Regions from separate parts of the Homo sapiens genome. Here region 2 is linked to region 1. The links come from fine-mapping of genetic effects on gene expression. A gene starts in region 1. The other region holds a variant in brackets. All regions are shown on one strand. Distances are between the middles of the regions.

Region 1 (16,029 bases):
GTTTTTCAAACGGTTAAACCTAGAGTTGTCATATGACTCAGCAATTCTCAACTCAAAAGAAATGAGGCCAGGCATGATGACCTGTAATCCCAGCACTTTGGGAGGCCAAGGCAGGCAGATTACTTGAGGTCAGGAGTTTGTGACCAGCTTGGCCAACATGATGAAACCCTGTCTCTACTAAAAATTCAAAAATTAGCCACGCATGGGTGGGGGGAGGGAGAACATCAGGAAGAATAGCTAATGGATGCTGGGCTTAATACCTAGGGGATGGGATGATTTGTGCACGCCTGTAATCTCAGCTACTCTGGAGGTTAAGGCAGGAGAATTGCTTGAACCCGGGAGGCGGAGGTTGCAGTGAGCTGAGATCATGCCACTGCACTCCAGCCTGGGCAGCAGAGTGAGACTCCGTCTCAAAAGAACAAAAAGAAAAAAAGAGAGAGAGAGAAATGAAAACACATTTTAAATTTGTCCACATTTTAAAATTGTACACAAGTGTTTACAGGAGTCTTATTCATAATAGTCAAAAGGTGGAAGCAACCCAATTGCACATCAACTGACAAATGGATAAACAAAATGTGGTATATCAATATAATATAATATAATATAATATTATTTGGCCATGAAAAGGAATGAAGTACTGATATATGCTATCACATGGATGAAGCTTAGAAACATTATGCTAAGTGAAACAAGCTAGTCACAAAAAACCACATATTATATGATTCCATTTATATGAAATGTCCAGAAGAGGCAAATCTAGAGAGACAGAAAGTAGATTAGTGGTTGGTTAGGGCTGCAGGAATGGAGATAGAGAGACAATAGCTAGAGTACCTGGCTTCTTTTTGAAGTGATAAAAATGTTCTAAAATTGTGGTGACGCACACACTGGGGCCTCTCAGAGGGGAAGGTGGGGGTAGGGAGAGCATCAGGAAGAATAGCTAATGGATGCGGGGCTTAATACCTAGGTGGTGGGATGATCTGTGCAGCAAACCACCATGGCACATGTTTACCTATGTAACAAACCTGCACATGCTGCACATGTACCCCAGAACTTAAAATAGAATTTGAAGAAAAAAAATGTGGTGATGGTTGCGTAACTCTGTAACATAATACTATCATTGAATTGTACCCCTTAAGTGGATGAATTATGTGGTGTGTAAATTATATTTCAATAAAGCTGATTTTTTTAAGAAAAAAGAATGCTGCCAATCCATAGCGGGGAAAAATGAAGATAGGGGAAAGCCCTCTGGGCAGAGGTAATATATAAGGCATATGCAAATAAAATATGTACAGAACTGTGTAAACAGTTTAATAACATCATCACTATTTAACACCTACCACGTTGCAGGCACTTTTCTAGACCATGGGATATTCAGTGAACAAAATTTACAAAAGTACCCATCCTTGTGGAGTTTACATTGTAATAGGGGAAACATATTAAAATCCCTAAAGAACATAGTACATTAGAAAAGTGTAAGTGCTAATGAGAAAAAAATAAATAAGACTTGAAGGTATTGCATGAGGAGGGGGTGCAATGTTACACAGAGTAGGAGCTCTTGAGTAAAACAGCTGAAGAAAGGAAGGAAACTGAGAATCTGGGGGAAGAACGTTCTAGATGGCACAGCAAGTACAGAGGCTAGTGTAAGAGTATATCTATCATTTATGAAGAGCCAGATTATGTAGTGCTTTTTAGATTATTGTAAGGACTTTGACTTTGCTCTGAGTGAGATGAGAAATTACTGTAGGATTTTGTGGCTATAATGGGATCAGTTTGGCTACTGCGTTGAGAATAGATTGAAGGAGGCTAAGTTCACAAACAGCAAGAGCAATTAGAAGAATACAATAATCATCCAGAAAAGTGAAAATGGTGGTTTGGGCCAGATTCTTAGCAGTGGGTGTGGTAAGAAATAGTCACATTTTGGACATATTATGAAGATAAGAACTTCAGTATCTCCAGATGGGTTGGATTGTATGGCATAAGGGGAAAAGAAGACTCTAGGATGACTGGAAGAGTGTAGTCTGTGCAACTGGAAGCTGGAGTTGCCATTTACTGAGATTTTTAAGACTGCAGAAGGGAGGCTGGGAATGGTGGCTCATGCCTGTAATCCCAACACTTCAGAAGGTGCAAGCAGGAGGACTGCTTGAGCCCAGGAGTACGAGACCAGTCTGGGCAACAAAATGAGACCTCATCTCTACAAAACATACACAAATTAGCCGGGTATGGTGACGCTTGCCTGTAGTCCCAGCTATTCAGGAGGCAGAGGTGGGAGGATTGCTTGAGCCCAGGAGGTTAAGGCTACAGTAAGCCATGATTGCACCATTGTACTCCTTCCTGGGCAACAGAGCAAGATCTTGTCTGAGAGACAGAGAGAGTGAGAGAGAGAGAGAGGAAGGAAGGAAGGAAGGAAGGAGGGAGGGAGGGAGGGAGGGAGGGAGGGAGGGAGGGAGGGAGGGAAGAGAGAGAGAAAGAAAGAAAGAGAGAGAAAGAAAGAAAAAGAAAGAGAAAGAAAGGAAGACTGACTGCAGGAGAGGCATGTGTTCATTTCTGAGGAGAGGTGGTTATCAAGATTCAGCATTGGACATGTTAAATCTGAGATGTCTGAGTAATACAAATGGAACTATAGTATAAGTATGAATCTAGAGTAGCGGTCCCCAACCTTTTTGGCACCAGGGACTGGTTTTGTGGAAGACAATTTTTTCCATAGAGGGTGGGGAGGTGGGGGGCGACAGCAGGGGATGGTTTCAGCATGAAACTGTTCCATGTCAAATCATCAGGCAGTTAGATTCTCATAAGGGGCATACAACCTAGATCCTTCGCATGCGCTGTTCACAATAGGGTTCATGCTCCTATGAGAATCTAATGCCGCTGCTGATCTGATAGGAGGCAGAGCTCAGGCGGTAATGCTTCCTCACCCACAAGTCACCTCCTGCTGTGTGACCCAGTTCCTAACAGGCCACAGACCGGTACCGGCCCATGGCCCAGAGGTCGTGGACCCCTGATCTAGAACTATGGGAGCAGTCTGAACTGGAGATGTAAATTTGGGAGTCTGCAGTATGTAAGATGGTATTTAAAGCCATAAGACTGGGTGCAAATTCACTGAAACCATGATGATTTTATTTGTACTAGAACATAAAGGATGTGAAGGTGGGAGATGTGCTTGGAAGGTAGGCAGGAATAAGAATATAGAAGACCTTATATTTCATGCGTATAAACTTGGGCTTTTTCTGATAGAGAGTTGTTGAAATCAGCAGAAATATGTAGTTAGACTTGTTTCAAACAGACTTGTTTCATAACACTGGTAAAAGTATGCAGAAAACACCAGAGACATACAAACGATTTAGGAGGCTATTACAGCATTCAGGAAAGAGTTGTCACACAAATGTTTCTCCAGTCCCTCTACACACTAGAGCAGACATAGGATATGACGGATGTAAGAAAGACTAAGGAGGTAGACTTGGCAGGACTTAATGGGTTGTTTGGTTATAGGAAATGAGGATAAAGGAAGAGTTAAGAGTGATATTTTATATGGTTTGGATCTGTGTCCCCATCAAATCTCATGTGGAAACGTAATCCCCAGTGTTGGAGGTGGGGCCTGGTGGAATGTGATTGGATCATGGGGGCAGATCTTTCATGGCTTGGTGCTGTCCTTGCTATAGTGAGTCAGTTGTTGCAAGATCTGGTTGTGTAAGAGTGTGTGGCACCTCCTGCTCTTTTCCTCTTGCTCCTGCTTTCCCCGTGTGACCTGCCTGCTCCTGCTTGACCTTCCACCATAAGTAAAAGCTCCCCAAGGCCTCCCTAGAAGCCAGCAGATGCACATGCCATGTATCCTGTACAGCCTGCAGAACCTTGACCCAGTTAAACCTCTTCTTTATAAATTACCCAGCCTTAGGTATTTCTTTCTAGCAACACAAGAATGACCTAAAACAATACCCTAAGTTCTACTTTCAATGACTGCTGGATGGTAACACCATTTACTGTGACAGGAATCACAAGAAGGGGGGAAAGCTCTGGATATTAAAAGGAAAAAAAAACCCTATGATATGCTAAAATTAACATAGTAAGTTTGAGAAACCCTTAGGATCAGCCTGGGTTCTCAAAGCTAGCCTCTAAGTTAATTTTGTTAATCTTGTCATGTGGGAAAAGCATCCACTGAATTTGTCTGCACAAGCACTGTGGTTGGCTTGAACACTACATTTCTATGTAAAATAATTTAATATTTAGACTTTTAAGATCTGGTTTACAGGAGTGTACCTCACCACCCCATCCAACCCTCCAAACTTCTCATTCCCCAGCTTTCTAGCTGACACAAAATTGAGTCCCCAGCCATTCAATGCTAAAGGTCAAACGGTCTTACATTGAATTCCTTGAGCCATGAGGATCTCTGTAAGGTGCCTACTTGAGCAGCAGCAACCCAGCCTCTCTCATGCTGACGTTGTCATGGCAACAAGGAAGTGTGTTGTCTCTTCTTTTTAAAATCCAGACTATGTATTTTATTTTTATTTTTATAAAGTTTGAAATATATGGAAGATTAGGCCGGGCATGGTGGCTCATGACTGTAATCCCAGCACTTCGGGAGGCCAAGGCAGGAGGATTGCTTAAGCCAAGGAGTTTGAGACCAGCCCAGGCAACATAGCAATACCCCATTTCTACAAAAAAAAAAAAAAATACAAAAAATTAGCTGGGCATGGTGGCACATGGCTGTAGTCCCAGCTACTCCGGAGGCTGAGTTGGGAGGATCACCTGAGCCCAGGGAGTTCGAGGCTGCAGTGAGCTATGATCATGCCACCGCACTAAAGCCTGGGTGACAGAGTGAGACCCTGTCTCAAATATATATGTGTAGAAAGAAAAAAGAAAAGAAAAAAACCCAAAGTGGGTGTTTTTAGTTTAATCTTTTGCTGACACCTAGTGCCAGAACTCTGCATATTCAGCTACCTGCTCCAAATAAGAAAAAAATAAATAGAATTAACAGGATTTTAAAATTGCCATGAATTTGACAAAAAAAAACCCGATGATTTATTTTAGCAAACAATATTTATCTTATCTTTACATTATACTTTTCACATCATTTCCCACATTTAAATAACAGCCTTTTAAAGTATTCAGACTCCAGGCCTTCTAAATGTCTAAGAATTCAATGTTGAGGCAATTTCTTTCTATTCTCATTTTTGGTTCCCTGCTGGGGGAATTGCTAAGAGTGCATAGAGGCCCAAGTAGTTCAGAATTCAACTCTTTGTAAGTTTTAAAGTACTTAGAATAAATTCCCCTTGGAAATTGTATGGGATGAGTCTGGAGTCCACGATGTTTTCATAACCGTGCTTTTCAACCATTCTCAATTTCACATTATGGGTTTACACTAAACAGTAAAAATTTGGCCTTGCATGTAATTATTATAAGTGCTCATTTCTAAAGAGGAATGAATTTGTAAATAAAGGGAGGGAAGAGTGACTTTTTATGGCATGAAATAATTTTGAGGAGAAACACGATTTGTATATACATCATTAAAAATAGGGCTTAAACTATGTGGTAAATAAAACTTGTGGGCAGTAAAAGAATTCAGGAGGATTACATCTGTGTTTGAAGGTGTTATAGGTACAGAGGCAAAGGAAGAAATGAAAATGCAAGGTTTGTAAAAATGAATGAACGAGTTTTCTGCTTGAATCTGCATCTACCGGCTGTGTGAACTTAGTTGTGTGAGCCTCAGTTTCCTCATCTCTAAACTAGAGATGATGATGACAATGTGCTTGCCTTATAGGGTTGCTGTAAGGATTGAAGTACAGAATTTCTGACATGTGGCAAGTGCTCAATAAACAATAGTAGTAATAGCAGCATTAAAAATAACTAGGCTTACCCCAATGCCTCCTCTTACAGAGTCTAATATTGTCCTAGTGTCAAAACAAGGGGGCTCCTTGTTGTAAATGTTCCAGAGCACTTTGGAAAGTAACTATGACCACCTCAGGTTCAGTACCAGGTGCCACAGATCCAAGGTCAAGGGGCCCCTGGGAGGTTATAGAGGCATGTTTCCAGAGGGCACTTGAAATCAGTATGAACAGTCAGTCTTACTCGAGGGCAGAGAAACAGGGTAATAAAGTCTAGATTCTTTAACCTTGCCTCACTGCCCATTCGCTGCCCTGTCCTTCAAAGAAACAAAACTGCTTTCTGTGGAACAAGGTGGCTAATATAAGATAGGCTCAGACTAACTTAGGTTTGAATTCAAACTCTACCACTACCCAACTGTTCGACTATGTACAAACTAACTTCTTTGAGCCTTAATTCCTTTGTTTGTAAAATTGGGAATAATAATACCTAACTCTTAAGGTTATTGCTAGGATTAAATGAAATGATGTGCATAAATCACTTTGCACAGTGCCTCGCAAATAATCTGTAATCAAGAAATTATCATCAGGCTGGGTGTGGTGGCTCAAGCCTGTAATCCTAGCACTTTGGGAGGCTGAGGCAAGTAGATTGCCTGAGCGCAGAAGTTCGAGGCCAGCCTGGGCAATATGGTGAAACCCCATCTCTACTAAAAAATACAACAACAACAACAAATTACCAGGGATTCTGGCATGCACCTGTAGCCCCAGCTACTGGGGAAGCTGAGGCAGGAGAATCGCTTGAACCCAGGAGGCGGAGGTTGCAGTGAGCTGAGATCGCACCACTGCACTCCAGCCTGGATGACAGAGCAACTCTGTCTCCAAAACAAAACAAAACAAAAGACAAGATAAACTATTATCATTACATGATTAAATCATCCGACTTGCCACCACATCAAATATGGCCTTGATATTGAGACTAGCTTGGCAATTTCAAATGGATTTTAATAATCTGAGAAGCCTGTCTTACACGTCATTTCTTTCTATGGTTTAAACCTGATCATAAACACCATTTGTTAAACACCTACCGTATGGTGGGTACTTAGGCACTTTTTCTTACTTAATCTTCACATCAAATATGGCCTTGATATTGAGACTAGCTTGGCAATTTCAAATGGATTTTAATAACCTGAGAAGCATGTCTTACATGTCATTTCTTTCTATGGCTTAAACCTGATCATAATCACCATTTGTTAAACACCTACCATATGATGGGTACTTAGGCACTTTTTCTTACTTAATCTTCACAATACCCAAATAAGGTAGATCTATTAATATTTTCCCTTCACACATGATGAAAGAGAAGCTCAGAGAAGGTAAGAAGTAACTTGCCTCAGGCTACATATGCAGCACAGCCAATGGTTGAACCTGGCATGGATGTCGCTAGCCCCTGATTTTGTATACCGCAATTAAGACCTTTGTAAAAACACATTCCATGGCTTCCTACAGCCTCCAGGGGAAAAGTCAAACCCCTTAGCTTACTACTCAAGGCTTTCCCCTATGGTTCTAGCCCCTACCGATTCTTCTGGCCTCCTTGCCTACTGCCCAATCACCTTCTCTAGGAAATCTTCCCTGATACCCTTCCTAAGTCTCCCATAACACCCTGGCCGATATCTGTATCACAGGATGTGCCACGCTATACTGTAATGTTGATTGTATTGTCTATATTCCTCAAAAATGCTAGTAAAGTGCTTGGCACAGAGTAGGAATTCAATAACTGTGTGATAAATGAATGAGTGGATACATTAATGAGTATCAAGCAAGAAAGCCCCAAATAATGTCCTACCGCTTTACAGAACAGTGGTGCTTAAAATGTGGTCCCTGGGCCAGCAGCAACAGTGTCATCTGGGAACTTAGATATGCAAATTATAGATCCTGACCCAGACCTACTGAATAAAAAACTCTGGGGTTGAGACCTGGCCGTCTGTGGTTCACATCACCTCCAGGTGATTCTGATGTACATATATTAGGAGTATGGGAGTATAGTTATTATTAGTACTAATTCTTTAAATTTATTTGGTACTTGATAGATTACAAAATAATTTTCTAACTACTATCTTTCAAATCAAGGATGAAGTGGAGAGGGAAAAATTGTTAAGGAATTCAGATCTATTTTAAACACATCCCTATTTAGTACGCCTCTCAGTTCTGAGAAACTAACTTTGTCAGCAGTCGCACAAATTTGTGACTTTGTAGGAGTGTCTGCCTGGCCAGGTTGGGGTAGTGTCCTCTGTGGTCAGCAGCACCTCTAGTGAAATCTCATTGATTGGATGAAGGATTCCAGGTGAGCAAAATTGAATGTGATTAAATTCTCATTGATGCTGTAGGAAAGCTAAAGCTATAGGAAAAAAGGCTTACTCATGTAGGGGATGAGGGATACATGAGTATTTTTTAGTGCTTTATGCAGACATGATGTTTCAGTAAGTGAAAGAAGCCATTCACAAATTTATATGAACCCATTATTAGTTTACAAAAAAAAAATGTTCTTTAACTCTCTCCAGAAAAAAAATTGTGAAAGACACTAAAATGTTAATAGCAATTTTCTCCAGGTAGTGGGATTATACTTTTATAATTTTTTGCAAATAACATTATTTTCATGAGAAAAAAGATAATAATAAAGGTATAAAATTGGTTTTGTGTACTGGGGGAGCCTGACATGCAGAACTAATGATTAACTAATGATTGGTGTAGCTGGAGGCAGGATTTGAAAGAGAAGATTGGAATCTTAGAGGGTAGGAGCTAGAAAGAATCCAGGACAATTTAGCTGATATCAATGGGGTCCCTAAAGCATTGAAATAAGATTTCTGTAGGCAAAGACTGAGGACATTACTGGCTCAAGCTTTCTGGTAATTCAAGAGCAACTTCTAGCAAAAGAGAAGGGAAGAGCCTGGATGGAAAATAGATAGCCATGTATAGAAAGTAGATGGATAGCCATGGGTTTTTTCCCAGGACCTAGAAGGCAAGACGGCTCATTTGGAGAGTGGAAGTTAGGGTAAAATATCCCAGGCAGTTGGTGGCTCCAAGGATTGCAACTGAAGGAGGTAACAACTCGAAAAGAAGAAAGGGATAAGTAAGCAACTGGTGCCTGTAGCAAACATCCAGCACTTTAAACTTGTGCCAAACTAATTTCAAAAAATGAGATTATGGCCCTATTACTTATATTATCTGCATATAGTGCATACACTGTGGTTTCTTCACACTATGGTAAAAATGGGTTGTGTTCTTTAAAATAATGCCTGAGCAATACTTTGGAAAGGAGGTTGATGCAGAATTAAAGCAAAAGTTGTGAATCTCAAGGGCATGATCTCTAGAGAAGTCCTCCCATTCCCCTCTTCCCATATTCAAGCCTTTGGAGTAGAAAATTATTACTTGAGCAGTTTCTATTTATTGAGCAATTAATATTTGGAAGGCTAAATGCTTTGAATGGATTTCTCATTTATTATTCTATGAGTTAGATACTGCTATTATGCCCAACTTTACAAATGAAGGAATGGAGGTGTAGCTTGCAAAAGGGCAGTGTTAGGACTGTCTGGCTCTGAAGTCCAAATTCCTTCTAAAACGCTGCCCTGCATTTGTTAGTCCTGAAAATACCCTAAAGCAAGTAACAATCACTATAAAATGCTAAAATTAGTAATACCTACTGTGAGGTTATAAAATGATACGGTCATACTGCATTGGTGGGAATGTGAATTGGTGTGACCTTTCTGAAGGACAATTTGGCAATACTTACCAGAAGAATTTTAAGTGCAAGTGCCTTTTGTTTCAATTATTGAATTACTAGAAATTCACCCTAAACATTAACTGACAATGATATATGTCCAAGGCGTTTAGTGCAAAAACCTAGAAGCAATCAGTGTCCTTCAAAGGGGAGCTGGCTAATTAGCTTATGATACAGCCATGAAATAAAAATTAAGAAGGCCAGACATGGTGGCTCATGCCTTTAATCCCAGCACTTTGGGAGGCCAAGTCGGGAGGATCCCTTGAGCTCAGGAGTTGGAGACCACCATGGGCAACATAGTAAGACTCCATCTCTACCAAAAAAATTAAATTAAATTAAATTAGCTGTGTGTGGTGGCATGTACCTGTAGTCCTAGCTACTCGGGAGGCTGAGGTGGGAGGATCCCTTGAGTCCAGGAGGTTGAGGCTGCAGTGAGCTATGATCATGCTACTGCCCTCCAGCTTGGGTAACAGAGGGAGACACTGTCTTAAAAAAATTAATTAATTAAAGTTTAAAAAGCAAGGTAAAAAATAGTGTGTACAGTTGATTACTTTTGTAGTACAGTAATTTTTAAAAATATATATAGAAGGTAGATTGATACACTGACATATGAATAATGTTCCCCCCTGAAAAACATAAGAAGCTTTTAACAATAAATATCTTTGTGAAGAGTAACTGAATTATTATTTTCGTGCCACTTGCAGATATTTGAGCTTTTAAAATTTTGTTACCCCCATGTTTGCTATTTTTTAAAAATTAACAATTCATTAAATCTTTTAAATAAAAACCAAATAGCATTTATTGAGGCTTTATAATGTGCAAGGGACTGTGCTAAGCACTTTACCTGTAATACCTCATTACATTTTCACGTTAACTTCTTATCTCCTTTTTACAAGTGAGGAGTTAGAGGCTCAGACAAGTGAAATCACTTGCTTGGGGACACAGAGCTAGAATGTGGCGGAGCTGCAATTTTAATGCACCTCTGTCTCATTTCAGAGCCTTAGCTCTCAACTGCCAGGCCGCACTCTTCTGCTTGCTCTTTATACCCTCATTGCTTAATGAGAGTACACTAGCAAACAACAGGAGTCTAATGAGATAATGTATGTGAAAATACTTTTCTAAGTATAGAGATGTTTGGGGAGGGCAAGCAAGGGTAGGGAATTTGTTTAAATTGGGCGGACCTGTCCACTGACCCCTAGACAGTCAGGATTTTTTTTTTTTTTTTTTACAAAACCAAGATCAACAACTTTCTTTTGTTCCTCCTTTAAAAATATTATAAAGTTATATTTACTTCCTTTTTCCCAATTATTGTTTATAAATTAAAATATGGAGAAATAAAAGCCATTTCATAATAGTCCTCACCCATAATTACTTTGTTTCAGATTTGAATGGCTATGTAACTATTACACACCTGCGTTTTACATAAACAGTAGCAACTAGACATTTGTTCAGTATCTTGCTTTTTCAGCCCTACAATATATCTTGGCCATCTTTTTATATAAACACTTACAAATCTGCTTTTCTCTTTTAAAGTAGCTGCATAATATCCTATTCTGTGAATACAGATAGGTAGGTAGGTAGGTTGGTAGATAGATAGATAGATGATAGATAATAGATATAGAGAGCTATGAAACTTTTAAAAATCACCTACTGAAGGACATTTAAGCTTCTTCCAATTGTTTGATTTCCTAATCAATGCTGTAATGAATACCCTTCCTAAGAAAGTTTAGAAGGATCTTTAGACTGAGTGTAATATTTGTCCACTGTAGTTGACGAGAGTGACCCCACAGGACGCTGTACTGAGGGGAGGAGTATGTTTCACTGCGTGGAGAAACAAAGAACTCTCTCCTAAGCATGACCAACACATTCAGAGATATTAGAATTGCCAACAGGTGGGATGACCTGAAAAAGAACTCCTTGCTTTGACAGTTTAGTAATAGAGCAAAGACTTGCCACGATTGCTCAACACTGGCTGGATCAGAAGAGGAATTTCCAGACTCAGTTACAAGCACGGCTGGTGGAGGGCTGTGAATCCCACCAGACAGTCTGGAGACAGCTAGGCAGGGAGATGAGCAGCAGAGCTCCAAATCAGGCAACAGCACGTGTGAAAGGAGCAGTGACCTGTGGGGAAACTCATAACTCACAGACCAAACCCCTTCCAGCAGAGGGCAGTGCCTCTGATACGACACAGGGCCCAGGCCAGCTGGAGCCAGAGCTGGGGACTTCGCTGGAGAGATGGCACCGGCCTGAGGTCAAGGAGAAATTGAACTAAACTCTCCTTTGAAGACTGTAAGTGACATTGGGGAATACTCAGGGAGGGACAGTGGGACCTCACACTACTATGATTCGCCTGTGTTCTAATGTCCAACAATTTAGGCTGAGTAATAAATCTCTTTATAGAGTTTGGCCATTTAGGGCTTGTAAGTAAGGGAATTTGGAGTCATTTTTGCTAGGCTGGCCACTGAGTCTCGCAGGTTTCTGGGTACATGCTTGAATTGAAAAGAAAGTGACACACCTAAAATACAGCCTAGACTCCTGGCCCTGGGGCTCTGTGGATCCGACACAAAGTTTACAAATAGAAAGCTAGCAAAGGGAAAGATAGTCGGAAGTAACAATTTTATCTAAAAATAGAAACTTAGAATCTAACACCAGAGTTACTACTTGCTTTTGAATTTCAAAGACTACATAGGATGGCCTTTAAAACAAAACTTCAGCATGTAAGAGCCAGCCAAGCAAATTGTTATACATAATCAACGATTAAAATAAATTAGTCTTTAGGCCTAAACCGTTTCCAATCAAATCTTTCTTGAATATTGGTTACCTTTTCTGCCGTGTAGTGGTTGGAATCAAATGAGAACATAGCTGAGCAGAGTACCATAAAGTCTACTTCTAATGCTGCTGTTTTCGAGCCTTGTGATTTTTTTTTAAGTGACTTTAGTATTCGCTGGTAAAGTCAAGGCGGATCTACCAGACGGTAAAAGTTCTGTGTGTTTGTCAGGCACGGCTAAGTAAAACGCACTGCATCTGAAAGTCTAAGGGTAGTTTGCATGCATCTCTCAGCAAAATAGCAAGTGGAAGAAATACCAGCAAGGAGAATAAACTTTCTGGGCTGTTTGATTTCCCCTGCAACTTCTAGTCCAGGGATGTTTGGCGTTCTCCCGGTCGCTAGATTATTAGCCCGCAGGTTCCGCACCGGCCAGGGAGCCGCTCAAGTCCTAGGGCCGGGCGGCTGGAGGTTGCAGGTCGGAGGGGCTTCTACGGGTTTGGGGGTGGGACGGTCCGCGGCAGCCGCGGGCGGGTAAGGACTGACGTCGCAGGTTTCCAGAGGCCCGTTCCCGAAGCCGGAGTCCCGACCCGAAACCGTCCCCGGCCGGCTCGCTCGCTCAGCAGGGCGCGGCTCCAGCGCCACCCGGCTCGCCCCGAAGAGGTGGGACTTTCCCCACCGGAAGTGATCCCGTCCAGTCTCGGGGAACTGGGGCACCTCAGCCAGTGTGTCAGGGAAACCCTTCCGGGTGTGTGCTTGGTGGGGGTGGGGGTGGGGGTGGGGGTGGGGGTGGGGGGTGGGTGAGAAAAAAAAGAGGTGGGTTCGCCTGGAGTCCCTGCGGCCGCCGCGGAAGGCCCCCGCTTCTTTCCCCGCGGCGAGCAGCAGCGCTGGGGCAGCGGAGAGACAGAGGAGCCAGCGGGTGGCCATGGCCTTGGCGTGACAGAGCCTCCCCGGCGGCCGGGCGGGTGCGGACGGCGGGGTAAGCGGCAGTAGCTTGATCCGGGTGGGAGTTGGGGGAGGCGGCGGCCGGCGCCGCAGGTTCGGGGCGGGGGTCAGCCGGGTAATGTGCGTCCTTCTCCCCTTCACAGGCCGGACGACCCCCGCGGGAGCCGGGGCCCAGAAACCCGCCCGGGCAGCGGTAACTGGAACGGAGCCCTCAGGCCTGAGCCGGCTGGGCTGCGCGAGCAGGAAGCGGGGTCCCTGGGCCCCTTTGTGTGAAGGGCGGGGGAGGAGTGCCGGGCAGCCCCGGGCTGCGGGCTCCTCCGACGTCCGCCTCGCCGCAGGGTCCCCTCGCCGCAGCCCCCACCCTTTCCCTCCCGGGGGCACGCGCCTCCTCGCCACCCTCGCCGGGCTTTTCCCAGGCTCGCCCTCCTCCCCACGCCCCCTGCTCGGGCTGCAGTTCCTATAGGAAGGGCATTACCATCCCTTCCCCACCCTCCCCGACTCTACGCTCTTTCCCCTCCCCCTCCTGTAACTTCCTCTTCTTCCCCGGTTGGGCCCTCTGCTCCTCTGCACTCTCCTCCCCAGTTCGCAGATTTCCGCCCACCTTCCGCCTCGTCTAGCCGCGCCACAGCTAGCGGGGTGATCTTTCCCCCCCTCTGGTAGGAGTTGGTGAAGGTGAGACTCATGAGGGAATACAAGGTAGTGGTGTTAGGGAGTGGAGGGGTTGGCAAATCTGCCCTTACTGTGCAGTTTGTCACTGGGACTTTCATTGAGAAATATGACCCCACCATTGAAGATTTCTACCGCAAAGAGATCGAAGTGGACTCTTCCCCCTCCGTGCTGGAAATTCTGGACACCGCAGGAACTGAGCAGTTTGCCTCCATGAGAGATCTCTACATCAAAAACGGCCAAGGTTTCATCCTGGTTTATAGCCTGGTTAATCAACAGTCTTTTCAGGTAACCAAACCAAGTCTTGTAATTTGTTAGAAGGGGGTGTGGTAATCCGACATCGACTTCTGGGTTGCTTGAACCGTGCATTAATGACTGTGCTTTGCTTTTGAAAGTTAGACATGACGCATTTTTGAGGTTACTCCTGCCATGGAAGACTATCGGGTTGTTTCTATAGAGCGTAGTAAAAAGTAACAAGCGTCAACAAATATTTTAAAGCTATTTTTAAGTGAAAGAAAAGTGAAAAAGAAATGTCAGTCTGTGTATATTTCGCCTGGAATATAACCTTCTGAAGTTGCTTGCTCAATTCAACAAGTATTGATTAACTTACACGACAAAACATCTAACAAATAATCTCGGGTAAATAGAGCACTTTGAAAAAATTATTTGGAGCCGATTATCTGTTGCACAGATAAGTCCTCTGTGTCTGTCCCACCCACACCTTCCCCTCCCACCCCCCAACACCCCCTCCCGCCGCCCTCCCCTTCTCTCTCAAGTTTCTCAACTAGATTCATAAATCTTAGTGTTGCAAGACGAAGAACTCAAGACCTGCCTTCTAGGCATTTTACTTAATTACTTGGGGCGTGTAGTAGGAAGAAAAGTTACTAATAGAAAAGACTAGTACCTAGAATTAATAACCAACAAAAATCAGGAATGACTCTTTTTCTGCAGTTGATCCAAATTGTTTCTGGTAACATTGCCTGTATTTACAGAAAATACGTGGGTCTGGGAACACTGAACAAGTGCAGATTTCTTACTCCGGCTGGGTGGCCAAACTGGATGTGGTCCAATCTCTTAGAAAATCTGTCCTGTCCTTCACTGGGAAACAGACTGAAGGTTTAACGTTATTTTAGGATATGCAATGTATGTTTCTATTTATCCCTTGAAAATGAATAACCTCATATTGACCCATTATATTGACCTCCATTGATTTAGGAAATGGATATATTTTTTCTGCATTTAAAGGTATGCACTTAATGTAGCTTACTTAAGAGACCTTAAGTGCTTTAGCCAATACAATGTGCTAATTCCACTTTCTTTAGTATTTTAAATTAAAGTACTATAGTGAACTTTCCCAGTAACCTGATAGAACAACTTCAGGGATTTTTTTTTTTTAAGATGATAAATTCTGGGGAAATAAATCAAAGCTATTGAGACCAAACTAAATTCATTTTATGTAGGCATAAATTCCCAAACAATAGTATCATAAAAGCATTTTCCCCCAGAAAGTACCAAAGTACTGAAGGTGCTGTTTGACAGGCATTTTTTCCCTAAAGGATCCTCAGGAGATTTGTTATTCTATCAGCTTACTCTCTGGAGGCTGAGAGTCTTTTGAAGGGTGTTTCATAAGATTTCTGTTATATCCATTTGTGTTATAGACATGAATTGGGAGTGAAAAACTGTGCCGTTATTTCAGTGGAGGTGTAAACTCTTTTGAGCCCAAATGCCCTAAGTTTGGATTTTCAGCTGAACTTATGTTTCCATAAAGACAATGGGAAATAAGCGTAACCTAGAAATCTGAGTTGATATATTATCAAACCAAATTGATGCAAATATCAAATAACTATATTTTTATAGATTTTCATAGTCCCTTGCTTTTCCGTAGGCCCACATGTGAATATTCTGTACTTACTATGACTTCCAATTAAGCATACATTTTCTATTTAAGGCAAACTTTTAAAATTATGAAATATTACCGAAAATGGTGATTTTTATAATTAAGTCTATAATATTGTATTAAATCAATACTTGCCCCCACCTCCCAAAACTGATGCTACTGGAGAATT
Region 2 (16,029 bases), 170 kb before region 1:
ATTAAAGTGGTACCCCCAAGCATTTCTAATTTGCCTTAATATCCTGTAATCATCTGTTAAATATTCATTTACACCCTTCTTTCCGTGGTCTTCTCTCTTGAACCACTCTGGATACCAGTCACATTAGCAATTCATTAATCACCTGGATTATACACATTGTGAATTACTTTGTGTATAAAAAGGTGTGAATTACTTTGTGTATTACAAAGTGTATAAAAAATTACTTTTTATACACTTTGTAATAAAGTTACATATTTTTATCTATAGTATCACTAAATCACTTTTTTTTAGAACTCTTAATTAGGTACCTTCTAGTATGGATTTAGCCACTCCAATTTTAAAAATACATACACATATGGGATTCATGTATGTACATATGTACATATGTATGTATAAAATACCCTGTGCTTTTCATACTGTTTGATCTAGCAATTCATATCTTTATCAAAAGACAGCTTAGGACTAGCCATCTGCCTAAAGTCTTCCTCAGTGGAGAACAAGACTGAAGGATTTATTCAATTTCTTTGCCACCATTTTTGAAACTACTTTTACTTCTTTTTGCACTCTGATTTTTAAATTGGGTTGATCTATTTAGTAAATCAAAAATTAATTAATGGTTTAGGAATCCCTTTTTATTGAATTCAGTAAGTATTGAGCATATACTCTGTGACAGGTATTTAAATGAGTAAAGGGTGGATAAAAAGATGATCAAGAAACAAACTCTACCCTCTAGGAATTCGTTATGTAACAAAAGTAAGATGTTGGATGAATATTTTCTGGTCCCCTTAATTTCTGATTTGTACCTGATTCTTCATATTTTTGTAGCTTTGGGCCTTTCTTTTTTCAACATAGAATTATCTTTCTATTAGCCATGCAAGGTTCTGTTTTGGTTTGTGTTGTTTTGATGGTGGTGGTGGTGGTGGTTGTGGTTGGTCAAACCCTTGATAATTTTAAACTCTTAGCCTACCTATTTATCTAACTTTCACTGACATGTTCATAAATAGTCTCCAGGTTTCCTGTGGGTTCCTTGCTTTGCTCAGTTCTTCCTATTTATCTCCCAAAAACCCACATTTTGTTTATACCCTTTGTTAAAACTAGATAACCACTTAATTCTTTGAACTACTTCAATGAGGTATGATTGACACACAAAAGCTGCACATGTTCAATGTATACAAATTGATGACTTTGGAGACAAACAGATGCTCATGATACTATTACTACAATCCATGCCACAAACTTGATTTTTTAAAAAATAATCTTTGTTTCCTACTAGAATACTAAAGTTAATTGAATTGCCATTATTATTACACGGTGGTCACCAACAAATTTTTAGGTCAATTCCTGTTCACCTCCTCAGGAACAATGTCAAAGTTACCCTGCTTATAAGTGTCAATCATTTGCTCTCTTCCTAGGTGATGTGCTGATCTGTGTTTAGGTACTCCTTTATGATTCCTGGCCTGCTGTTGTATTTCTCCTCCCAGCAAATATGGGTAGCTCTGAACCATGACTTGTGTTCTCATTTGTGTTATTCTTTATACCTCTTATACTCACAATCACCTATTGATCTTTCAACTAACCTGCCTGCCTTCAATGGTTCCTCTTACTTGGAGAATTCTCTGATTAATAAGATCAGAAAATCCAGGTCTAGGTGAGGACAATGGTTCACTTTTGACCCATGAACTTTTTTTTTCTTAGCTCTCTCTAGAGCCATGGGGACTTATTCATTAACAAGTACGATTAGTACTTAAACACCACTATCAGCTTGCATCTGTTTTTAAAGTTAACTCTCAATTATTGAGAAACTAATTAACTAGTCTGGAGGTTATGTGGGTCTCCTGCAGCCTGCATTTTGGCCACTTCAGTCCCCACGGAACATTACTCAAGGAGTGTGGAAATGACCAAGCAAATACTGTGAAAGAGAGATTATTCAATTGTACTCTGTGTGAAAGTGAAGTCTGATGGAAACTAAAATTATGGATTTCAGTGCATTTTGGGATTATCTAAAGATAGAAATATGCATGATGACCGTAAAAAGAGCCTTCCTTTTATATTATATAAATGCTTGCAAATGAGCAATAAAATGAAGATATTATGACGCTAGTAAAATTTATGAGTGCTATTTTTCTTGTATTAAAATTGGGTCAACAAATTGTTACCAAATGTTTACCCTTCTGTAAAAGAAAATATCTAGTCATTCAACTCTAGACAGGAACTCAGAGATGGAAGGCCCCGATTATTCTGTTGACCTTAGGCCAGGATTTTGAAATATTTTACATTCATCCAACAATAATTGTAATTGATCTTGGATATTTTTGAGGTAACTACAAATAGATCTAGGCTATTGAGGAGACACAAAGATTGATTTGGCATAACATTTAATTTTCATTTATTTATACTAGCTTGAGAAATAACCTGTTAAGTCACTGTTCCTAAAGTGTGTGTAAACTAGACATTTATTTGAGGCATAGTTTTGCATTGAATTGCATTGCCTCAGAATCCTTTAAGAGCAATCTGTGGTGGCTTTTAAAATTTTTACCTTTACAGGATTCCAACTACTATTTCCCCATTCTTAGTCACGGAGTAGTGATTGTTCTATAAACAAATAGTTAAAAATCCTAATCCTAATATTAGTAACTATGTAAAAGAACATTTTAGTGAATACCTTAGTATTGGTTTACAAAGCCAAACATTTTCAATTTGTGGAATCTTGCTACAAATACTAAATTCATATACATATATATTCATATATATTCATATATATATGAATATATATGAATATATATATGAATGTATATATGAATATATATGTATATATGTATATATGAATATATATATGAATATATATGTATATATGAATATATATATGAATATATATGTATATATGAATATATATATGAATATATATATGTATATATGAATATATATGAATATATATATGAATATATATATGTATATATGAATATATATATGAATATATATATATATGAATATATATATGAATATATATGAATATATATATGAATATATATATGAATATATATATATGAATATATATATGTGAATATATATGTGAATATATATATGTGAATATATATGAATATATATATGAATATATATAGGAATATATATAGGAATATATATAGGAATATATATAGGAATATATATAGGAATATATAGGAATATATATATGAATATATATATGAATATATATGAATATATATAGGAATATATATAGGAATATATATGAATATATATAGGAATATATATATAGGAATATATATGAATATATATAGGAATATATATATAGGAATATATATGAATATATATAGGAATATATATATGAATATATATGAATATATATAGGAATATATATATATGAATATATATGAATATATATGAATATATATTTGGTGCTTTACTCCTGAAAGCGTTGGAGAATTTCATTTTTTGAAATCATTTAGAACCAAGGTCGGTGAACTTTCTTGTGAATGGCTAAATATAAATATTTTAGGCTGTGAGGTTCAAGATGCAAAGTTGAGGGTATTATATAGGTACTTATATAACAAGAGAGGAAACAAATATCTACAATTTTTTGTAATACAGCTCTACTAATGAGCACAATGAAATTTGTGGATGGACACTGGAATAAGAGTTTCCTATAATTTTCATGTTTCACTAAATATTATTCTCTTATTTTTTTCAATCATTTAAAACTGTAAAAAACATTCTTAGATTGCTGGCCATACAAAAACACAGGCAGGCTGAATTTGGCTTATGGGCCCTAGTTTGCAGAGCCTTACTCTAGAACAGAGATTCTTAACCAGTAAGTAGTTCATAACCCCACACCAGGGGTGAGTGTCGTGGGGTCCTTGAACTTGCTGAGATCACAAGCAACATTTTTTGCATACATGAATTTTTCTGTGGACAGAGTCTGCAGCCTTTATCTGACTCTTGGAGAAGTCCTGGACTCAAAAAAGATTAGGAGCCAGTGTTGTCTAGATATTTCGTTAATTTTTAGGACACATTTCCTGAGTGTCTGATAGTTCCTAAGCAATCTGCAAGTCACTGGGAACTCATGGGAATTTCTACTGTAGGAGCTAATACTGCTAGAGACATGGGGATAAATAGTTGTCAGGTGATCTTATTCATAAAGTCTGTTGCCACCACCATTCTTGCTGGTTGACAACACTCAGAAAGATGAAAATTTACACCTGGTTATGGGAGGGACAGCCGTCTCTTTTCAAGTATTTAGTAAATAATTTAGGTTGGAATTTAAATATCTGAAACATTTAAGTGTTCAGACCATTTCAGGCTGTAAAGATAAATCAGAGTCAGTATAGTTAAAACCTTTTCCTTTACAATAAAAATTAACCCACAGATAGGTTCATGTTAGCTCAACTGACATCAAGGGCTGAGATATATATAGAGACAGGATTAAAGTTGCTTATTAAAGCTGAGCTTCTGAGCTTGCAGGCTGCTTGACTTAACCCATGGCTGTTAGTCAACGCTAAGCCCTTGAATGTTCAAATTCATGAAATGGAGTAGTTACCCTGGGGCAGAGGTGGTGGTGAGAAAACAGAAATGTCCAACTGAAAATAAATAAGCCACTCAGGAGTTCCTGCCTCTGCCCCAGTATTGAGAATGGGATAGCTTGCTTCTTCTCAATAAACAGTGTTATAGAATGCATTTCATACTCAAGGAGGAAATAGTTATAAGAGCTAGGATACTAATTTTAAGATCTAAAGATAGCATAGTTTGTGGTGAAACCTTAGAAAAATCTAAATACTTTCAGTAAGCCCTTTACATTTTATATGTAGACCAATCATTAATTTATAGCCTTTTTTTCCATACACTTGGAGCATATAACAAACCTAAGAAAGTTTAAAAGTATTCCAAAGAAAGCAGAACTTAGCTAGGAGAATTTCCCTGGTGAGTCACCTCAAAAAAGAAAAGAAAAAAATTACAGAAGTAAAAAGCTACCATAAACAGAAAGCATTGCTTTCAAATACATTAGGCTTCAATATTGTTGATTGATCAGCATTTATTAGTGATTAATAACTTTTTAATCTGGAAAATTCACCCACCTCCAGGTCTTTCTTTCAGTTCAAAAATTAATAGATACAATAATGGTCCTGCTCATTTTTGTAAAAGGCAAGAGCAAAAAGTATGCAGGAGAATGGGCTGGTGGCTTCAGTGAGAAATTTACCAGGAAAGTCAGAGACAACGAAAAGTCAAGTGAAGAGCACTATCGTGTGCTTCAAAAATGGACTCTTTCTCATCAGAGATTCTTGGTGATCTTGAGACAACTATGAATCATTACATTGATAAAGTCTGCCTTATTGCGGAAGCATGCCTGGGTGGCTGTTTCCAGAAGATTTCCTTCTCATTATATAAAATCATGTCACATCAGCTAGTTCCTGAGCTTCACATCTCATTCCATGACAAGTATCCCGTATTCCTGTAGTCTATTACATCATAAGAGCTAGTTAGACTGGGTCAGCCCTTGGCTATTTGCCCCCAGACTTTAGAGTCCTTCTCCTGACTACACCATCATCTTTCCTGGCACCTGGCGTTCCCTTTCCACTTAAGGCTCTTGGCAACCATGTCTTTCCTACTCACCCTCGTGAGTCTTGCCAGTTTTTTGGTGCCAGATTCTTTCTGCCCTTCCTAATGTCCCAATCAGCTAATTTGATAAACTCATCTAAGGTAGAATGCTAATGGGGGAGTGCTTCCTTCTAAGCTGAATATGGTTTATAACAGAGTCTTCTTGGAATGCTGTGTGGGTGACAATTTCAAGTCTGTGTGGGGGTGAGGCAATGAGTATACATTGCCCTTCACTTTATATTCCACAATTTGTATTTAGACTTGTTTCTATTAATGTGACTTAGCAGGTATGGGCACAGTTTGGCAAATGCAACAGATTCGGGGGTTTTTTCAAGTGAAAAAATTTTATAAAGCAAGAAGGAACACATGCAATTAGTAATACACAATGAGACACCACCAGTTTCACAATAACTAACTTGTAGAGTCATTATTAGAAATATACTACATTTAGTCATGATTTATTATTCATTCATTAAGCTTTTAAAATGTATCATTGAGTATATCTGTCAACCAGTCATTCACTAAGTGTTGGGTACTATAGGGGAGATGAGAACTATCAAAGGAATAAAACCACATTGACAAGAAAAGATACCCACATGTGGAACAAACTGGAAAACAGCAAAGTGATAAATAATATGGCAACAGATAATAAAGGAAATACACATATTAAACTTTTTGAATCCAGGATCTTTGAAAATAGAAAAAGCAGTAATAGCTTTTTGCATTTCTGAGGTTTTTTTTTTTTTTACAAGTTACTCTAGTTTGTGTACCATATAATCCTGTTATCTTATCTCTTCCTGCCTAACAGGGATTCTTGTAGCATTTCTAGTGCCTTCTTTTGAACTATGAATATCATCTGGCCCCCTGGATAAAGACAAGGCTAGGCAAGTCAGATTAGCTTGTGAAACAGGACCTCTAGGATGACTACAGTAAACAATAATTTCTTGTACACTTAAAAATAACTAAAAGAGTATAATTAGAGTGTTTGTGACACCAAGGAATGATAAATGCTTGAGGTGATAGATACTCCATTTACCCTGATGTGATTATTACACAC[A/G]GTATGCCTGTATCAAAATATCTCATGTACCCTATAAATATAGATACCTACTATGTACACATAAAAATTTAAAAAACAGGACCTCTGATTTAAAAAAATAACAAAATATAATGGACCATACTAAACTCATTTTAGGTAGATATTAAAGCACTCACTTTTTCTAATTTATCACTTTCTTCCTCAACTCCTTGCTGTGTTCCATAATTGTCAGTGGGCCAGGAAGACAGAAGCACAGCCAGTATTTGGTAGTACAGGTGGGGCCTGTGGTAGGACAGGCAGCCTTACAGCCAAGCAGTATTGATGGTGAAGAGGAAAGAGGAAGGAAAGGGACTGAATGCAAAGGCCATGCCTGTGTAAGGAAACAAAGAAGATTGTCCATATGTGTAATGTCATTGGTGACATGGTTTTTAGGGAATAAAGAAAGAGTTGGAGGAAACACATTTGGAACAGACTAGCAGTGAGATTTAATTTGGATAATTCATGACTGTTAAAATCATGTGGCTTATTTTATGAGCTTACCAATAAAGTTAGTACGTAAAGAGATTTGTTGGTTTAAAAGCAACTCCTCTATGGGAATTAGTATGAGGCTAAAAATAAATCAGAAGAAAACAATAGTAAATTTTGATGTGGCATAAGTAATTTTGATGTTTCTGAAAGAATACCTCTTTGTGTAATGACAGGAAGAATCTTTACCTCTAACATCTTTTTTTCTCTTTTAAACATACAGGGTTCTTTTCCTATGACTCCATCAATTCCAGCTAATCCTCCCATGGCTTTCAATCCTTACATACCACATCCTGGGATGGGCCTCGTTCCTGCAGAACTTGTACCAAATACACCTGTTCTGATTCCTGGAAACCCACCTCTTGCAATGCCAGGAGCTGTTGGCCCAAAACTGATGCGTTCAGATAAACTGGAGGTATTTGTGAACATATATATAAATACCTGTAGAATAGATATTAACCTTACACATAAAGCAGTATTCTCAGAGCCCAGTGTGTTGTTTTAAATAAGAGAACCCAAATTTCTTAGCTTATAGGGTTGTTAAACATTTTAGTACTGCAATCATACCTTGTTATAAAGTGCATTGATTCACCTGTATGGTAGGTCAAACAATATGTTAAGTGTACCCAGCCATAGACTGTGCGATGGCACAGGAAGCCTCTGTGGGAATGTTCCTTTTACCTAGGCTCCAGCTTTCAGAAACAGATTACTATATTTGTTAATGAGTCTCTACTTGCTAGAATAATCAAAGTGGGAAAAAAGTAGACAATATAACTCTCTACGATTGCAGAATGTAAAGCTATATGAACACAGAAGGTAAATTAGTCTCATAGTGCCTCAACTTTTTTCTCCATTTTGAGAGTGATGTGCTAGGCAGTAAATAACCCCGATGCCTAAGAAAAGAAAATCTGAAAGAAATTTCAAACAGCTTTTTGATTTATTGAAGTCCTTCATTCTTCTATTGTTATTCTTTGTACATTGAAATAACTAGTCTTTCCTTACAAAGTCAGCTCCATTTGCAGCCGCTTAAATGCCTAGTAATGTATTGTAATATAATCTGATTGTACATATAACTCAGTTATGGTTCACAAGTTGACTTTGGAAAACCAGTGCATTATGGTGTGATAAAGACTCATCTTGGACTTAAAAAAACACTAATTATGCTTAAGGCTGTGTATTAACTGGAGAATTAAAACTGGTTTTCAGTAATACTTTTTTAAACATTTTTATTTCAATGTAAGGACAACCTCCTTTTGGGGAGAATAGAATTTTTTTCTGGGAATAGAAATTCTGTCTGTTTATATCTCATAGTGAATATGGCTTTACATTATTCTTTATCTTTTTAGATTTGTTCACACATAATATATTCAATGTATATATAATTACTGTTACATTCACTAGCAAAATAAATAAAAGCCAGTCAGCTTCCAGTCATCAGTGTGATGCGTGTGTATGTGCATGTGTGTGTTCTAAGGTTTGCCGAGAATTTCAGCGTGGAAATTGTACCCGTGGGGAGAATGATTGCCGCTATGCTCACCCTACTGATGCTTCCATGATTGAAGCGAGTGATAATACTGTGACAATCTGCATGGATTACATCAAAGGTCGATGCTCGCGGGAGAAATGCAAGTACTTTCATCCTCCTGCACACTTGCAAGCCAGACTCAAGGCAGCTCATCATCAGATGAACCATTCAGCTGCCTCTGCCATGGTAAGAAAAGGCCTGCACTTGTGGCCTGTTTCAGAGTAAATGCTTTGTATATTCCTCAATTTGTCTAATATCCTGTAACCATACTCATGGATGGTCATGAGAGGACCTTAATATGAACAGTCAAGGTTATAAGCTGGAAAAGAAAGAACCTATTTATTCTACTTTATTTACTAAGATTTTCTAAAGATAATTATTTAAAAGCCTTACTAATGCTTTTAACCTACTGTGCTCTTTCTCCCATTTTCAGAGTAAGGGTAAATTATATAATTTAAACAGTAAGTTATTTTTGAGTGCTTTTATAGTTTCACTACCCTCAATATCCTAGAGAGGCAGAAAGTTGCCTCTGCTCTGTGAGCCACTTTCATGGGCCCTTTGCTACTAACATCCTTAATGCCTTTCAAAAACACAGCACTTAAAAGATAGGGTATTAAGTAGGTTGTAATTTCCTAAAGGTTAAGGCCACTTTTCCTCTCTAGAGGCATAGTATCAAGGACAGCAGCCTGCTTAGTCTGGGGGGAAATTTCTACGTGGTTGGGAGCAGAGGCCTGACTTTGGTTTTTTTTTTTTTTTTTTTTTTTTTTGTTGTTGTTGTTGTTTTGTTTTGTTTTGTTTTGTGGGGGTGGTTGTGTGTTTTTTGTTGTTGTTGTTTGTTTTGAGATGGAGTCTCACTCTGTTGCCCAGGCTAGGGTGCAGTGGCGTGATCTCAGCTCACTGTAACCTCCGCCTCCCAGGTTCAAGCAATTCTCTAGCCTTAGCCTCCTGAGTAGCTGGGACTAGAGGCGTGCACCACTGCTTCTGGCTAATTTTTGTAGTTTTTATAGAGGCCGGGTTTCACCATGTTGGCCAGGCTGGTCTTGAACTTCTGATCTCAGGTGATCCTCCTGCCTCAACCTCCCAAAGTGCTGGGATTACAGGCATGAGCTACCGTGCGCAGCCCAGAGTCCTGACTTTTAAGTTGCTGTAGAAAGCCAGTTTTGGGGGAACAGTTAGTGCTGCTTAGTAATACTGAAAGGTAGGAAGCAGGAAAAATATTTGTGTAACACTGCAGTGTGATCACTGAGAACCAGGAATTCTCGTGACTTAAGTTTGCCACAGCTGTCCGTTGTTTTGATGTGCTGCTTGCTATGTCTTTCTTTTTCTCCCTGGACCTTTCCTTGTGTAATAAGGCATAACAGCCCCAGTAAAGGACAAAACCCACAGGAAACCTCATGTTCCCTGGGTGTGGAAAAAGCACTGACATGACCCTGAAGCCCAGGAGATGCACTGTGAGCTAAATCTCCTCACAAACATTCATAGTTTGGACTCCCATGACAGAGACTTTGCCTATTCACAACAGAGAGACACTTATTTTCAAACATCCCTATTAAGAAGGTTTTCCTCATACCGAGTTGAAATTTATCTTGCTGCAACTGGAACTTCACAAAAGAAGTCAGTCCCTATTCCAAGTGAGAGTGACTCTCATGTCTCCTGTCTAAGCCAAATACTGCAAATTGCTCCCTTTTCCTGGTAGTTTATGGTTTCAAGGACACAGTACCATTTTTGGACTGGCTCCACTTTTTGTCAGAACTGAACTCATTACATCGTGAAGGATCTGAGCACCAAAGTAGAACAAACTTACTTTCTCCCTTGATCTGAACAACATAATCTGTTAATGAATGTTAAAAAAGACTTTACCAAATTCTTTTTGTCTTAAATGCTTTTGAAGGGGTAATTATAAGCTATGAAAATAGCTTCATATGCATCTGTCCATTTCTGATTATTTGAGTGTGTTTGATAGAATGCATAGGTTACAAGTCAGCCTCAAATTTCCACGTAGAGAGCTAAATATTATATCATAGGCCTTCAATTGTTACTTGTGAATATCAATATAAAATTCCCTTTTAAGTAACTGATCACAGCAGGGTCTTAGCAGTGAGATCAAGTTGGCTCATAAGAATTTGATAGAGGTAAGATTAAATAAAGGAGGGCTTCATGAAGAAATTCAAGCTTTTTATATTTTTAAGGATTCATAGTGGACATGCTTTATAAAAGAGACATTTTTACCTTGTTCATGTATATAGCTCAGGTTGAGTTCACAGAAAGCAGCTTGTATTTAAAAAAAAAAAGAGAGAGACATAAAGGGTTGATACTTAGTTCATCCACAGTCTCACACCTCTTCGGCAGGTTTATGAGTTTAATAGTACAATCACCACCCAATTGGAACTGGGCACTGACCCATCAGGATAAACCCCAGCCATAAATAAACAAGCAGTACTACCTTACCAGCGTCTACCTGTTGAATGTTCATCTAGGTTTCACCCCAATTTGTAGTTTACTAGGGAACATAACTGGTTCTGATGATCATACCATGCTGCCAACTTTCAAGAGAGAGAAGGGGACACTCCCCGTTTATACCAAAGGGAAATCTTTTTAACAACCAGATAAGTAGGTCTTCTGTCTTAGTTAAAATGTTCAGCAAAACCATTTTCTCCCAATGGTAATAAAAGGCATTCGAAATGATAGATTTTGTTTTATGGTTTATGATTTTAGTACTGACCTTTGCCATCTGGTCTGCTGGGATAAATTTGGAAATTTTATATCTCTAAAGCTACTCAGTTTATTTTATCTCACTCTTCTAGCATGCTTTTCTTTATTTAGGTGAAATGAAAAGCAGATCTGTCACAGTGTGTGCACTGACAGTAGAGTTCCCAAAAGAAAATAGAGATACCTTGAGACCTTTGTTATCCACAGGAACGAGGTCATGGCATTACCCTTTTGGACACATGGTAGGATAGTTACTCAACACAAGCATTCCTGTTTCCTTAAGAATTTGGAGCATACCTAATTGTTGTTGCTGGGACATGTTTTTTAAGTAACGTGCAATTTGCTGAGAAAAAAAAAATGTAAAGTAATGTTAAACTTCTCCAAAGAATCTGATCCAGGGGCAAGTTTCACGGAGTATTATAAGCACAGTGGGATTTTGAAAGAACTGTAGACATGAAAGGATGGTTTAAAAATGCTAATAGGTTTTAGAATTAAACCTTACAAGAACTTAACAAAGCAAATGGTACATACCGAAATGGACAGCAAGCCTCTATAAATAAGAACTGCATATATTTTGCTAACTATCTACATAGTACCTGCGTGAGGTAGGTCGTGGGGGAGGAAATATTCATTTGCTTTTTCCTTACATGTTAGTTAGGAAATATATAATTATAGGACTTGAACCTGAAGTCTTTGTATAAACTGGATTTTATTTTATGGGGTGACAGTGTCAGACTCTGATCTACCAACATCTGTTTTATCACCTATATGCCATTTATGTCCTAGATCTGTATTGGAGTTTTAACAGGCAGAAATCTCTTTCCTGCTATATCTGTTGCTTCTGCTAATCTCATTTTTATAGATTCATAGATGAGTATCCCTGAGATATTAATTATAAATGATTGTTTACTGTAGTAGCTTTCTGTCATATCCTGCCCAAATGAGGTCTAAATTAGTGAAGTTGAAAACCTTTTTTTTTTTTTGCATTTTTTTTTGTTTTGCACTACTGCTCATGTAGTTGGACTACCTCTTTTTTTTTTTTTTTTTTTCTTGAGACAGGCTCTTGCTCTGTCACTCAGGCTGGAGTGCAGTGGTGTGGTCTCAGCTCACTGCAGTCTTGACGTCCTGGGCTCAAGCAATCCTCCTGTCTCAGCCTCCCAAGTAGCTGGGACCACAGGCATGCACCACCATGCCTGGCTACTTTTTCTATTTTTTCAGAGATGGGGTTTTGCCATATTGCCCGGGCTGGTCTCAAACTCCTAAGCTCAAACAATCTGCTGGTCTCAGCCTCCCAAAGTGCTGGGATTACAGGCGTGAGCCACTGTACACGGCTGTGAACCCCCTTATCTCTACATTTGGTTACCTTGCTGTGGGGCCACTGCTTATCCAGTGTCTTGCCCAATGCATACCCTTACGGAGGATTCCCAGGAAATACCTTATATGACTGGTGCTTGCTTGGTTTGAGTACATTTGTTACTTTCTCTAGTACTAGTACCATCTCTCCCCCCACAGGCCCTGCAGCCTGGTACACTGCAACTGATACCAAAGAGATCAGCACTGGAAAAGCCCAATGGTGCCACCCCGGTCTTTAATCCCACTGTTTTCCACTGCCAACAGGCTCTGACTAACCTGCAGCTCCCACAGCCGGCATTTATCCCTGCAGGTGAGAACACAGCTCTAGGCACTGCAGCGAGTTTGGTGATGTTGTGAATGTATACAATGCAAAACAGCTTTCAAAGAGCTTGTATAGGAGGACTGTCGACATGTATTTTGATTAAAAATAAAACAAGGAAGTTATGCTTATCTGCTAGTATCTAGAACTACTTGTTTTTCTATAATTCATGAAAATTCATGGTTTGAAATCAAACTAGGAAAAAGTATCAACATTTTTCTTTTTAGCATTTGTTGGTTTTTGCTTATGATTAATTCACTTGGTTCAGTCTCAAACTAATTCCTTGACTCTTAGGTATCACTGTCACAGACAGTAGAGTGCTGTCAAATAAAAAGGCAAAAACTCCCAGCTTCGATATTATGGAAATGCGTTGTCAATATGTCTTTGATATGCCAAAGGTAGTTAAAATAAAACTACCCTAAGTGCATAATATAGTATAATATAGATTAAACAGATAGTTTTAGCCTGTAACTCCTGAATCAGTTAATATAAAATACATAGCAGTTTATATTTTCTGACATTTTGCAGCATATTTTGTTATCTCCTACATTCAGCTATATTTAATAGCCTGTTTTACATGAAATTGAACAGAAAATGTTAAGCCAGAAATTTGTTCAATTAGATATCATATATTGGGGGGAAACTAATTTTCTTCCAGTGGTTTAGTAGTTTAAGAATGAGCATATAGTCTCTTAGGAATAAATTGAAAATTCTAACCATTGAGAGTACAGCAGTTTTTTTTTTCCATTTTTTTTTTTTTTTGACACAATGGTAAATGCCCAAGATTGGAAACTATTTTTAAATGAAAATAACATATGTTTTAAAAAATAATTTAGAAATCCTTGTTAATACCCAGACTTGAGAAAACTTATTGGTTAACTAGTAAATTAATCAGTTAATTAATTTTGAAAGGTACCATAAAACACCAGTCTTTAGTTACTAGCCACAGCAGTCCTTCATGCCATCATTTAAATTATACAATTTGTATACATTTATATGATAGTTTCTGAGAGGAAATATGGAATTCTTCAGCACTTTCTTACATCCCTTATAATAAGTAACTACTGATATCTAATAATTTAGATATTTTCTCCCAACCTAAGAAAAACACACATAATGTCTACAGAGTAAAAGAGAAAACCAGTATGAGTTGACATGACTTTATTCCTAGCATTTTTTTTCTTCAAAAATTGTGGTAATTTACCTACACATTAGATCACTCTACCTTGGCTACTTCCAATTTGTATTATAGCTGTGGAATGAATTCAGTAGCCCTGGAAGTCTAGTCAAGGTGGTTGAATATAATAAAATGTATGCTGTTCATCATAGTTTTTCTTAATACTACAGTTACTTTGTTTCCAAGTTTGAATTTTTTGCCAGATTTGGCCAACATAAAATCTAGTTTCATAAGCAAAAATGTCAGAAAAATTCCCTTTCCCTTAATTAGTAGCAACATAAAAGCCTGTCCAGCTAAGAGGTCTCTCTTAATGGAACCTCTTTGCCATATATTCATAGTCAAGTCCTATTGACTATGAGACAGTGGAGGAGACAGTGTTAACAGATTAATACTCTAAATAGAAACACGGACACCAGATACGAGATTCTGGAGCATATTTAGAAAATGATATGTGTAATAAATTAAAATTCTCTTATTATAAAAATTATTTAGGATGTATTTGTCCACAATAAATATGTAATTTAAGTGAGTTAATTCTTTTAAAGAAAAATTATAGCTGATTTTGTACCTAAGAATCCAAGAATTATTTTGATTACCTGGGTTTGTGACCTTAAAACTAATCTGTAATTGTAAACATGGGAGATTGTTGGACTTGCATGTGCTGAGTAATTGATATTGCAAAGAAATAATCTTTCTGTTAAAATGTATTTCTATCAGTAAATCCTTAATAATCAAATATCTCTTTTACTTTCCACGCTTTTCTGCGTGGTGTACAGGGCCAATACTGTGCATGGCACCCGCTTCAAATATTGGTAGGTTTTCTACAAAAATTATCAACATTTTCTAATCTGAAAAAATGTGTTTTTCTGTTGTGACTATGAAAGATGAATGACTGAAAGATGTGGCTGGAAATTTTCTGAGTATGTTAAGGTTTAACATGGTGCTTTCTGTTTTATGTCTTTGTAGCATCAAAATAGTCCTACTTTCTCAAGTCCTAGTTGGTTGCCACTGTGGCCAAATACTGGCCCTGTCATTTCTCTATTTCTACCCTAACAACAGCAACTGAAATATTAAAAAATCGTTTCTTTTACAATATTTGAAACTAGCCAGACTGGGCAGTTTTGTTCTTTGCTTAACATGTATTATTTAAAAATTGTAAAATACTTAAAATGTATAACTTGTAAAGTACAATGAAACAATTCCCACCTGAAAAAGTTATCTATAGGACTTAAAGCATTCAATGTTCCTATGTTGCGAGAGGATGAGTTCAGCAAAGCCAGAGGATTCTGCAGTGTTCTGTAATGAATCCTGTAGTGTTCTAGCCTGAAGCACCATTGGCACAGAAGCTAGGCACAACAGAATCATTTCAAAATGACTCTTTGAGTGTTACGTGATTTTTAACAAGCAGTTGCACACAGATCCTTTTGTTAGCCACTAACACAATATGATAGCCATCTCTAAACCATTTTATACAGCACTAATACTGAAGAGCATGAGAAAGGAATGGGGAGTTCACAGCTCCTACAGTCCTCATGGGCACAAGGAACAGACCAGGAGAAAATAGCTCTGTTCTATGCAAGGAGAAATGATCCCAACCCGTCCCACTCTACCGTCTCACATCAATCCAGGCCATCCCCTCCCTTTTGAGAGTTTGCAACAAATTGACCTTTGTCACCTTGGTGGACCAGAATAGATGCAGAGCCCCAAAAGCACTACTAACAGGCTTCTTGAGAATAAAGTTCAAAATGACAACCACATAGTAGCAGCACTCACTAACATAG

The links.
Region 2: its variant is fine-mapped to the expression of RAP2C in whole blood (TOPMed, PIP 0.96).

Annotation. Positions count from the first base shown.
Region 1 is chrX:132,215,218-132,231,246 of GRCh38, reverse strand. It overlaps RAP2C (RAP2C, member of RAS oncogene family), which reads left to right and starts at 11,800. Exons shown (of 6, transcript NM_001271186.2): 1 at 11,800-11,877; 2 at 12,906-13,015; 3 at 13,235-13,331; 4 at 13,441-14,251. The coding sequence starts at 13,979. It overlaps RAP2C-AS1 (RAP2C antisense RNA 1), which reads right to left and starts at 12,740. Exons shown (of 3, transcript NR_110410.1): 1 at 12,410-12,740. RefSeq lists enhancers at 6,965-7,494, 11,429-11,478, 11,809-11,878 and silencers at 13,311-13,360, 13,371-13,810.
Region 2 is chrX:132,383,694-132,399,722 of GRCh38, reverse strand. MBNL3 (muscleblind like splicing regulator 3) reads left to right here. Exons shown (of 9, transcript NM_001386889.1): 4 at 7,389-7,580; 5 at 8,640-8,876; 6 at 12,912-13,062; 7 at 15,025-15,060. The region is part of intron 2 of RAP2C-AS1 (RAP2C antisense RNA 1); the gene reads right to left. Among named protein-coding and RNA genes, the nearest start is that of MBNL3, 97 kb to the left of the region's middle. The variant A/G (reference allele first, on the strand shown) is at 6,662.